3 separate regions of the Homo sapiens genome follow, and regions 1 and 3 are each reported to be linked to region 2. The links are microRNA targets in miRTarBase. Many come from high-throughput screens and were not tested one by one. Region 2 holds a microRNA gene; each other region holds the end of a gene's coding sequence.
What was found. The annotated mature microRNA hsa-miR-6729-5p reads UGGGCGAGGGCGGCUGAGCGGC and lies in region 2 at 1,750-1,771, opposite strand. An mRNA with a match to its seed (bases 2 to 7 or 8) in the 3' UTR can be bound and repressed. Matches are read on the target gene's strand: a 7mer-m8 pairs with bases 2 to 8, a 7mer-A1 pairs with bases 2 to 7 and ends in A, and an 8mer does both.

Region 1: miRTarBase lists MRPS10 as a target of hsa-miR-6729-5p. The part of its 3' UTR that is shown has no 7-base or 8-base seed match.
Region 3: miRTarBase lists SLC36A1 as a target of hsa-miR-6729-5p. Seed matches in the 3' UTR shown: 8mer at 2,307-2,314.

Annotation. Positions count from the first base shown.
Region 1 is chr6:42,205,675-42,208,674 of GRCh38, reverse strand. It overlaps MRPS10 (mitochondrial ribosomal protein S10), which reads left to right. Exons shown (of 7, transcript NM_018141.4): 7 at 303-1,868. The coding sequence ends at 386. Among named protein-coding and RNA genes, the nearest start is that of MRPS10, 11 kb to the left of the region's middle.
Region 2 is chr1:12,027,589-12,030,933 of GRCh38, reverse strand. It overlaps MIR6729 (microRNA 6729), which reads right to left and starts at 1,776; the gene lies at 1,712-1,776. It overlaps MIIP (migration and invasion inhibitory protein), which reads right to left. Exons shown (of 10, transcript NM_021933.4): 5 at 1,793-1,901; 6 at 1,653-1,711; 7 at 1,040-1,169; 8 at 810-906.
Region 3 is chr5:151,487,534-151,490,878 of GRCh38, reverse strand. SLC36A1 (solute carrier family 36 member 1) reads right to left here. Exons shown (of 11, transcript NM_078483.4): 11 at 1-2,896. The coding sequence ends at 2,625. Among named protein-coding and RNA genes, the nearest start is that of MIR6499, 33 kb to the left of the region's middle. RefSeq lists an enhancer at 1-39.

The DNA of each region.
Region 1 (3,000 bases), not on the chromosome of region 2:
ATTTCAGCCCAAGTCCTCCGTGAACCACCTATGAAGTTCTCCCTCCTCAATATGAGTTGTCTAGACCTGGGGATCCCATTAAGTGGCAATCCATGAAGATCATTGAGGATCAAATCGATTATGTATGTGAGAGTGTTTTATAGACCATCAAGTTTCCTTCTTTCCATTTCAAAACCCTATAGAAAGACTAGGGGGATAAAAGAAAAAGAAGTAAAGAGGATTTGACCAAATTAATAAGTCCGATTTGTAGTCAAAGAGTTCTGTTAAATCCACATTATAGTTTTGTTTCTTTCTTTTTTTAGACACAATTAGAACAGTTACCAGAACACATCAAGGAGCCAATCTGGGAAACACTATCAGAAGAAAAAGAAGAAAGCAAGTCATAAAGCCTCAGGGAGGCCATTTTTGCCTAAATTTGAAATGAGGGTGGGCCAGATGAGTATGTTTAAGTGGAGAGTGCTTCCAGCTGAGATGATTTGAGTCTGCCCTAACTGCTCCATTGAGTTCTCGTGCCCTCATCAGCTGAGGGCAGGGAATGGAACTTTAATGGAAGAACCACTTTTATCTATTCTTTTTATTCATTGTTTCAGTTCTGATTTCAGCAAACATGAGCAAACCACTTTGACTGAAAGCAGAAAGAGTGAAAATTCTATTTTGTTACGCTACTGGTGTTCAATTATTAGTTTGTACCATTTTTAATTTATGTCAGTTGATGCATCTGAAAATAAGTGCTTGGAGTGTTCGTACCCTTATTTTTTTTTAAGATTCCTAGAAGGAATCTTTGGTTAATTCAGATTGAGCAGTTAAAGTTTTTGCTATTTACCTTTGTGCAGGCTGGCATATGCTAATTTGGGGGTGGTAACCAACCGATTTTATCTCATGTAAGCATTACATTTTGAAGACTGAATATACTTCACAGCAGATCAAACACATTTATGGCATGCACTGACCTCTTCTTGGAGCCCAGAACTTTATAGAGTTGCCTACCAGGGTTACTGTAATGGAATTTATGATCTTAAGAAATTACTAGTTGTATTATTTATCCTATGATTCATTCATTCAATAAGCTTTTACTGCATAAACTTTACATCCAGCACTGTAGTTAAGTACCCAAAATTGAATAGAAATAATGGCTTTTGAAAATCGCACAAAGCAGGCCAGGCACGGTGGCTCACGCCTGTAATCCCAGCATTTTGGGAGGCCGAGGCAGGCGGATCACGAGGTCAAGAGATCCAGACCATCCTGGCTAACACGGTGAAACCCCGTCTCTAATAAAAATACAAAAATTAGCTGGACATGGTGGCACGTGCCTGTAATCCCAGCTACTCAGGAGGCTGAGGCAGGAGAATTGCGTGAACCCGGGCCCGGTGGAGGCTGCAGTGAGACGAGATCGCGCCACTGCACTCCAGCCTGGCGACAGAGCGAGACGCCGTCTCAAAAAAAAAAAAAGAAAATTGTGCAAAGCATAGGTAAATATTTTTCTTTATTAAGCTTCTCACTGAGAAGCCCTCTTTATTTTGGTAAATGTCACTCTGTTTGTTAGGAGATGTCTGCTTTTCCATGAAATGAAATAGTGGCTAAAGCCCTGAAAGAGGCAAGACTACAATGGGCTGAAACAGTTGGTATAGCAACCCCAGAGAAGTGCTTCATTTTCTTTTTATAGTAGAAGCAGGTCCATGTCTTTTGTGGTTTCCTGCACATCTTTGGAGTAGTTATGACTTCTCAGTTTTTCCCCCCTTAAACTGCATTGCCTATTCTTTTTTCCTGACATGCTATCAGGTATCAGTGTGTTGAATACATACTGCTTGTGTATCAGACTTACGTTACTGTCATCACCATTAAAAGAATTGCAGCTTTGTGCCCCATGACCTTCAGCTCAGTTGTTGACTGTCATTCATGAATGCCTAAAGCATACTGACACCAGGTATAAGTACTTGAAGATCAAGAACTAGTCAATAAAACATGAGCAACATAATGGTAACTATGTGCAGCAAAGCAGCAATTTATGACACATTTTCATCTGAAGTAATTCTTTAAAAATAAATATAGACCCGGCCGGTTGTGGAGGCTCAAGCCTGTAATCCCAGCACTTTGAGAGGCTGAGGCAGGTGGATCACCTGAGGTCAGGAGTTCGAGACCAGCCTGGCCAACATGGTAAAACCCCATCTCTATTAAAAACACAAAAATTAGCTGGTCATGGTGGTGGGCGCCTGTAATCCCAGCTACTTGGGAGGCTGAGGCAGGAGGATTGCTTGAACCCAAGAGGTGGATGTTGCAGTGAGCCGAGATTGTACCATAGCACTCCATGTAAACCAAAGTCCTTAGTTTAGGACTTCCAATTATGTGTTAAAACCTCGGCTTAAATAAGCAAATGAACTACATGTGCACACATGCACGTGAGAAAAACTAGCAGTATTTCTTTTTTCTTTTTCTTTCTTTTTTTTTTTTTTTTTTTGAGATGGAATCTTGCACTGTCACCCGGTCTGGAGTGCAGTGGCGCGATCTCGGCTCATTGCAACCTCTGCCTCCCAGGTTCAAGCGATTATCCTGCCTCAGCCTCCCAAGTAGCTGGGACTACAGGCATGTGCCACCACGCCCAGCTGATTTTTGTATTTTTAGTAGAGATGGGGTTTCCCCATGTTGGCCAGGATGGTCTTGATCTCTTGACCTCGTGATCCACCTGCCTCGGCCTCCCAAAGTGCTGGGATTACAGGCATGAGCCACTGCGCCTGGCCCAAAACTAGCAGTATTTCTTCGACGAAAGTATTTGGCATATTTGAAGCCCGCTTCTTGATATAAACAAGTTTGGCATGAAGTACAGTACTGAAAAAATGATATAAACAAAATAACTTCTTAGCTTATCAGGATATAGCTATCTTGATAGGCTAAGAAGATTTTTGGTTTTCTTTTGTTGGTTTTAAATTAGGCCTCTGAGTAAAATGCATATCCTGAAAATTAGAATTAATGCCTGGGTCACACTTTCTGTCCATGGTGGGTATG
Region 2 (3,345 bases):
TGTTATGTCCATTTTACGGACCAGCAAACTGACTTTCCTCTGCATCCTTCTCCTCCTCTGACCCCAGCTGCCCTACTCTCAATTTAGGAGTCAGGGGGAGTTGCCACTGGCACCCCATCCCGACCTGGAGACACAGGAAAGGACATTTTTTTTTTTTTTGAGATGGAGTCTCACTCTGTCACCCAGGCTGCAGTGCAGTGGCGAGATCTCAGCTCACTGCAGCCTCTGCCTCCCAGGTTCAAGCGATCCTCCCACCTCAGCCTCCCAAGTAGCTGGGACTACAGTGGAGGCTGCAGTGAGCTGAGACCATGCCAATGCACTCCAGCCTGGGCAGTAAGAACAAAACTCGGTCTCAAAAAAAAAAAAAAAAAAAAAAAGCAGCAGCAGCAGCACAGAGACCTAGGTTCGAATCCCAGCTCCTCCACCAAGGCGCCTCCCCCTCTGCTTCGGTCTCCCCACCTGCAGGGTGGGGGTACAGCAGTGCCTACACTCCTGGCTGCTGTGGGGGCTCCATGAGATAAGCCCCCTAAGGACTGTGCCTGCAGTACACAAAAGCGCAATAAACAGGACCCATTCATGTCATGCCAGCCTGCAGGCAGATCACCCTGGAAGCACCGGGGTACGTGGAGCGGGGGTCCTACCTCCCTTAGGTACAGGTGTGGGTGATGGAAGAGGCCCAGGCTGTGCTCCAGAGACTTGGGCGCTCACCCTTGTCGAGCCCAGTCTCGCTCTGTGACCCTCCCTGGGGATCTGGGCCAGTCTGAGCCAGCCCCGCCCTCATCACCATCCAGCCCCACGTGGCTGCTCACCCGGGGCAGGGCCAGTGTGTCAGAGGCGTCAAAGCTCTTTCGCCGGTGGATGTGGTACCGGTGCGGGGGCTCCAGGATCGACAGCGGGATGCTCACCCTGCGCAGGGGGGCAGTGGGGGACCCCTGAGGAGCCTCCCAGCGGTTGGGGGCCCACGCCCAGGCCCATCTTTTCTTAAAACCAGTGGTTCAGGCTCTGTCCCCCAAGGTGTCCCAATACTCTGGTCACTCACCTGACGTGCGCTGGCTGCGCCAGGGTCCCAGGGCCCTGCTGGTCTCGCGGTGTCCTGCACAGGCGGCAGGGGGTACCGGGATCCACAGGCACCGGGAACAGGCGCCGGTTGACACGGTAACAGTACACGCCTGCGAGGCCCATGAGAAGCCACAGCTCTCCCTGAGCCAGGAACCCAGGTCCCCAGGCTCCGTGCTGCCCTCAGCGGCCCCCAACCACACAAGCTGCCAATCCCTCTGGGAAGCCCTTCGGCCCATTTCCTCCTAACCCCTTTCCTCCCAGAACCTGGGGCCCACGCCCTAAGGGGTGGGGAGGGACATCCTCCTGGGGCCCTCAGGAGCTGGGATGGAGTCCCACCAGCACAGGGGCACTGCTGGGGAGGGTGGGATGGTGCCACACAGGGCAGCCCCTAATTCGGTGGCCAGGCCTTAGCTCACTCCACCCCTACCAGGGCTTGGCCACCCTGTCCAGACTGCAGGCCTCCCTCCATGAGTCTCAACATCTCAGGGGCCTCCCCAGGCCCCAAACCTCAAATGGGACTGCTCTGGGGCAGGGGAGGCCAGGGCAGCGCGAGGCTGGACTACTCAGCGGCCTAGCCGAGGGCCCGCACTCACATTCATGGTCTTCCTCCACGCCGCTGCCACTGCTCTCACGCAGGCCTGGCAACTGGGGTCTGAGAGGGCGAGGGGGATGAGCAGGCCGGGGGATGGAGCCGCTCAGCCGCCCTCGCCCACCCTCGCCCGCCCCTGCTCACTCAGGATGGCTGCAGATACACTCCTCCTTGTTGGTTTCCCGAAACTCCTGCAGCTTGGAGAAGAAGGCCTCAGGCTGGCTGGTGATGGAAGAGCTGGTGTCCAGAGACCCTGGTGTGGGCAAAGCACCAGGCAGCTGACGGGAGAGGGGCTGGGGGCTGCTGTGTGGCCACCGGCCAAGGCTTGGAGAGACGATCAGCCCTGGCACCCCAGGCCACCTGCTTCATCCCTACTGTGCCTCAAACAGGCCAGGAGGGCCCCTCCAGTCACTGGGACTGTTGGTTGGTTTCAGTGTCTGTCTACCCTGATGCATAGCCAACCATCCATGGAAAAAATATCGACAGAGCCCTTATGACAGGGCTAGATGCTGTTTCATGTGCCAGGAACTAGACAGACAAAGCCCCTGGCCTTAATGAGGCTTACACTGTAAGGTGGCAAGAGATGAACTAGCCACCAAAAAAAAAAAAACCCGTGATACAAGACTGAATGCTGATACCTGCCAGAAAGCAAGAGAGCAGCGTCAGAGCCTAGTATGGCCGGGCAGCCATACCAGGGAAGGCCTCTCCGAGTGAGATGACCCTGAGCAGAGACATGGAGAAGCCACAGAGACCTCCCAGGAAGGACATCGCAGGGAGATGAAAGAGCAAGCGCAAAGGCCCCGGGGTGGGCATGTGCATGGTTCAGCTGAGGAACAGCCAGGAGGGGAAAGTGGCAGGAAGGCAGCGAGGGTGGAGGAGATGAGGTTAAGAAGCCCAGGGAGGGTCTGGGGAATGGGAGGGACACAACCACATCAGCCACATATTTTTACAGAACTCCTCCTCTGGCTGCTTCAAGTTGAGGGGAAGCAGAGGCATCGGTTAGGATTCAGCTGGGGAGAGGTAGGGGCAGCCCCCAACTTACCATGATTCGACTTAGGATGTTTCTTTTTTTATTTTTTGAGACAGAATCTCACCGTGTTGCCCAGGGTGCAGTGCAGTGGAGCGACCTCGGCTCACTGCAACCTCTGCCTCCCAGGTTCAAGCGATTCTCATGTCTCAGCCACCTACAGAGCTGGAATTACAGGCGTGCGCCACCACACCCAGCTAATTTTTGTATTTTTAGTAGAGACGGGGTTTCACCATCTTGGCCAGGCTGTTCTCAAACTCCTGGCCTGATCCACCTGCCTCGGCCTCCCAAAGTGCTGGGATTACAGGCGTGAGCCACCGCACCCGGCCTAAACAGTATTTTCAACTTATGTTGGGTGTATCAGGATGTAGCTGGATGGTAAATCCAGCAAGTTTATGGCCTGACCTATTTAGTATTTGGAGTTGCCATTTATGGAGACAGGAAAGACTGCAGGAGGAGCACAGCAGTGGAAATCAGGACCTTGATTTCGGACAGAAGGTTAATAACTTCATGGTGATGTGGAGAAGACAGTGGGATATACAAGTCTGGAATTCGGAGGAGAGGTGCGGGCTAGAGATACAAATGGAGAAGTAGAGAAAGTGTCCAAACACCTCAGCGTTTGGGAGATCATAGAGGGAAGATAGAGAGGAGGAGTCAGAAGACCGAGTCC
Region 3 (3,345 bases), not on the chromosome of region 2:
AGAGATTCTGGGCTGGCTGCGAGCTGCTTGCATAAGAGGAGGAAGGGCTTCCTCCCACTACTACTGACTGGCTGACCCTTTGCTTGATGCCTAAGAGCTGTGCACCTGCATAGCCAGGAAGGTCCTCTGGCTGGAGCTGCCCTTCCTGGGTCTTCTGAAAGAGCCACGCAATCAGTCTGTCAGTGTAGCAGGAGCACAAGCCAGAGATCAAATAGGCCATGCCAAATTGGCTTCCAGAAATCCTAAAGCTACAGCCAACTCTCCTACATACCACGTTCTCACGGCCAGGGGTGTGGAAGCAATAGCCTGCATCCTGCTAAGAGCTGGGGGACCCCAGTATTCTACCATCCAGTCCTCAGGTCCCAACATCACAGTCCCAATCTCAGAACTCGGATGGGCAGGATGGTCTCTAGCAGCTCTGAGTAAACAGAAACGTCCACCAAGGAGGACATGGGCAGGACACAGGTCTGGCCCTCCAGTTGGCATCTACCTTCTCACTGAGACCACTCTTAGCACCGCTGGGAAAGACAGCTAAGATAGCGGCTGGGCTGCCAGAGCCCGAACTTGGAACCAGGAGATGACAGTTTCTGAGCCCACTTTGGTAACTTCTAAGCCTGAGACTTCAGAAGACAGGGCCTCTGCTACTCCCGGCTAGATTCCTGGTCACATAGCACCTGTTAAGAGTCCACCATAGAACAGAAAGGGTGGGTGAAAATCGTCCTTCTCCTAAGGAAGAACAAGTCAACAATGATAGCATATTCCTAAGTTAACAAATTATTAGGTAGGTTGGGAGTCACTACAATGAGAGTCCACTTTTCCCATCCCTTCACCTGGAAGTCAGCTCTCCTGGCTTTGGAACAGAAGAGACAGAAAAAACTGGGGCCATATGGGTGGGTCACAGCCCTTATGAGCTTTGGCGAAACACAGAAGCAAAACCCCTGATACATTTTTGCTGCTCTCCTTCAACCAGCTTTCAGAGTGAACTGTATCTGCAGTGAAGCAAGAGCCTGGTGACGGGACAGAAGAGAAAAGGAGTCTGGTCTGTTACTTACACAGGAACACACACACACACGCACGTACACACACACGTGCACAAATACACAGCTAAAGAGGGGGAATTCATCAATGGCCTTCTGAAATACTTCGCACACCAAGAGGAAAGAAGAGGCAGCCCACAGCAAGGCAATGTATCTTCCTCTGCCTTCTCTGAAGTTTGCTCCCAAATCTGAAGGCTGACCTTGAGGAGGGCCAACCTCAAGGCTGTTTGTGAAACCCAGGGAGGCATTCTGGGGGAAAGACAGGGCTCATAATTAGTGTTCAGTGGGTTCCTTTCAAAGTCCAGGCCACAGAGGCAGTGTGGGGCCGGGCACTGGTTCTGCCCTTTTCCCCACTGATTGTAAACAACCGAGCACTGCGCGTAGTGTCAGACCAGCTGCTGTAAAGTCTATTAACTTAATTTCAAACTCTGTGCACACTGACCTCAGCTACTCATCGGTGGCAATAGAGCTGGTGTCGTCCCAGCACGATGGCAACAGAGCATTGCTGATCCTTTCACCTGGCGTGGGCTGAGGCTGAAACATGGGCCTGCATGCACACAGCCCCATTTTATACGCCTCTCACTCAGCCACCCTTCCCTCGGCCCGGTGCACCCATACATTTCTGCAGTCCTTCAATGTCTTTTCGGTATGAAACCAGGCTGGTCAACAGGAGGCAAAATCTGTGCCTCCTCACCGAGGTACATTTTTAGACGATCCTGATTAAAACCTTTGAGTCCTCAGCCAAGAGTGCCGAGGACCCATGCAGACATCTGGAGCGAGCTTCTTTTCAGCAGGAGAAGTTGAGTCAAAGTTTACTGAAGAAGAAGTGATTCGTAATAGCCCCAGATCTAAGACAGTCTAAAAACAAAAATCTGATTTTAAATAAAAGATAAATATTTTCAGTTTAGGCAACACTTCGTATGTTTTAAGAGCTAAAGCAACTAAGAACACAGTACTGTGACCCACACTAAGGAATCCAGGGAAGAGAAGCATTGCCTTAGGGGTCACAGCAAGCCAGAGAGTCCAGATTAAAAACTCCAGCTTGGGGGCCTGTTTCAAATGACCAGGTAGGTCCAGCCACCCCCTGGAGACTCGAATAGGAAGAATACTGAGATACAACATTTGGGAGAGAGATGAGAAAGAAGCCCAGCTTTATAAAGAGGGGGCGTTCCCAGTTACTTAATCTATGCCTGGCCCAGAAAAGGTGAAAACATGAGGTGGGGGACATGAAAATTGTTAAATAAAGTGAACTGTGCAGTAAGAATGAGTTGGGCGAGGTGCACCAGCAGAGGGGAGGCAGGTAGGAAGGAGGAGGCATGATGAGGGGGAGCTGGAAAGTTCTGGGTGTAAATAGGTACAGGTGAGCGATGGCAGCCCTGTCACTAGTAGCACTTCTGCGTGTCTGCCACCCCACCTCTCCCCTGCCCTCAGGTTACCTGGCCCAGGGTATCCAGGTGCCAGGCAGAGGGGTTCCCACACAGCAACCCTGACTTTCCTCAGAGCCTGGACCATACCTGAGGCTCTGAGGACAGGTAACGGGGGACACATGGGGCAGGGGTAGGCAGCTGCAGAGACGAACCCAGATCCCTATATGAAGGCACAGGTGGAATTGATGAAGATGGGAGCATTGCTTGGCTGGATCAGCTCATAGAGAGCCTCATAGGTCCCCACCACAAAGCCCACGAAGCCCAGGATGCTGATCAGGGCGTCCTTAAAGATGGTGAGGGGGCTCATGCCCTCTGAGTAGAAGGTGGTGACCTCCAGGAGCGGTGGGATGATGAGGGCCAGGGCGCTGCTGCTCACGGAGCCCACCAGGGAGATGACCAGGTCCAGGCGGGGGATGAGGATGGCCAAGATGCCTGCAGGGAGAGAGGACATGCCTGTTTAAGATGCCCAGAGCTGGGAAAGGTCTGTCTCCCTACTGTTGAGCGAATTCAGCATCTGTCCATCTTATAGGATTGAGAGCTCTAAGAAAACTTAGACATTGTCCAGTTCAATCTCTGTGAAATAGATGCCCAGAAACATGGAATAACTGGCGTCCCACTGCAAGGTCAGCAGAACTGGGACCGGAACCCGGATCTTCTGGCTCCGGTCCCCAGGCTTTCAGCTTTTCCGGCTACAGCACATGACTTCCATCTTTCTGTGCAAAAGGAACCAAATTACATTTCAGGTCAATCTGGTTTCTACCCAAGGAGGGAGGGTAGGGAGAAGAAAAGGAGGTGGACGTTCCTGAGCAGCTGCTCATTTTCTTACCACTCAGGGAGCCTCCAACACAAACATCTCTACCTGACTGACAAGAAACCAAATA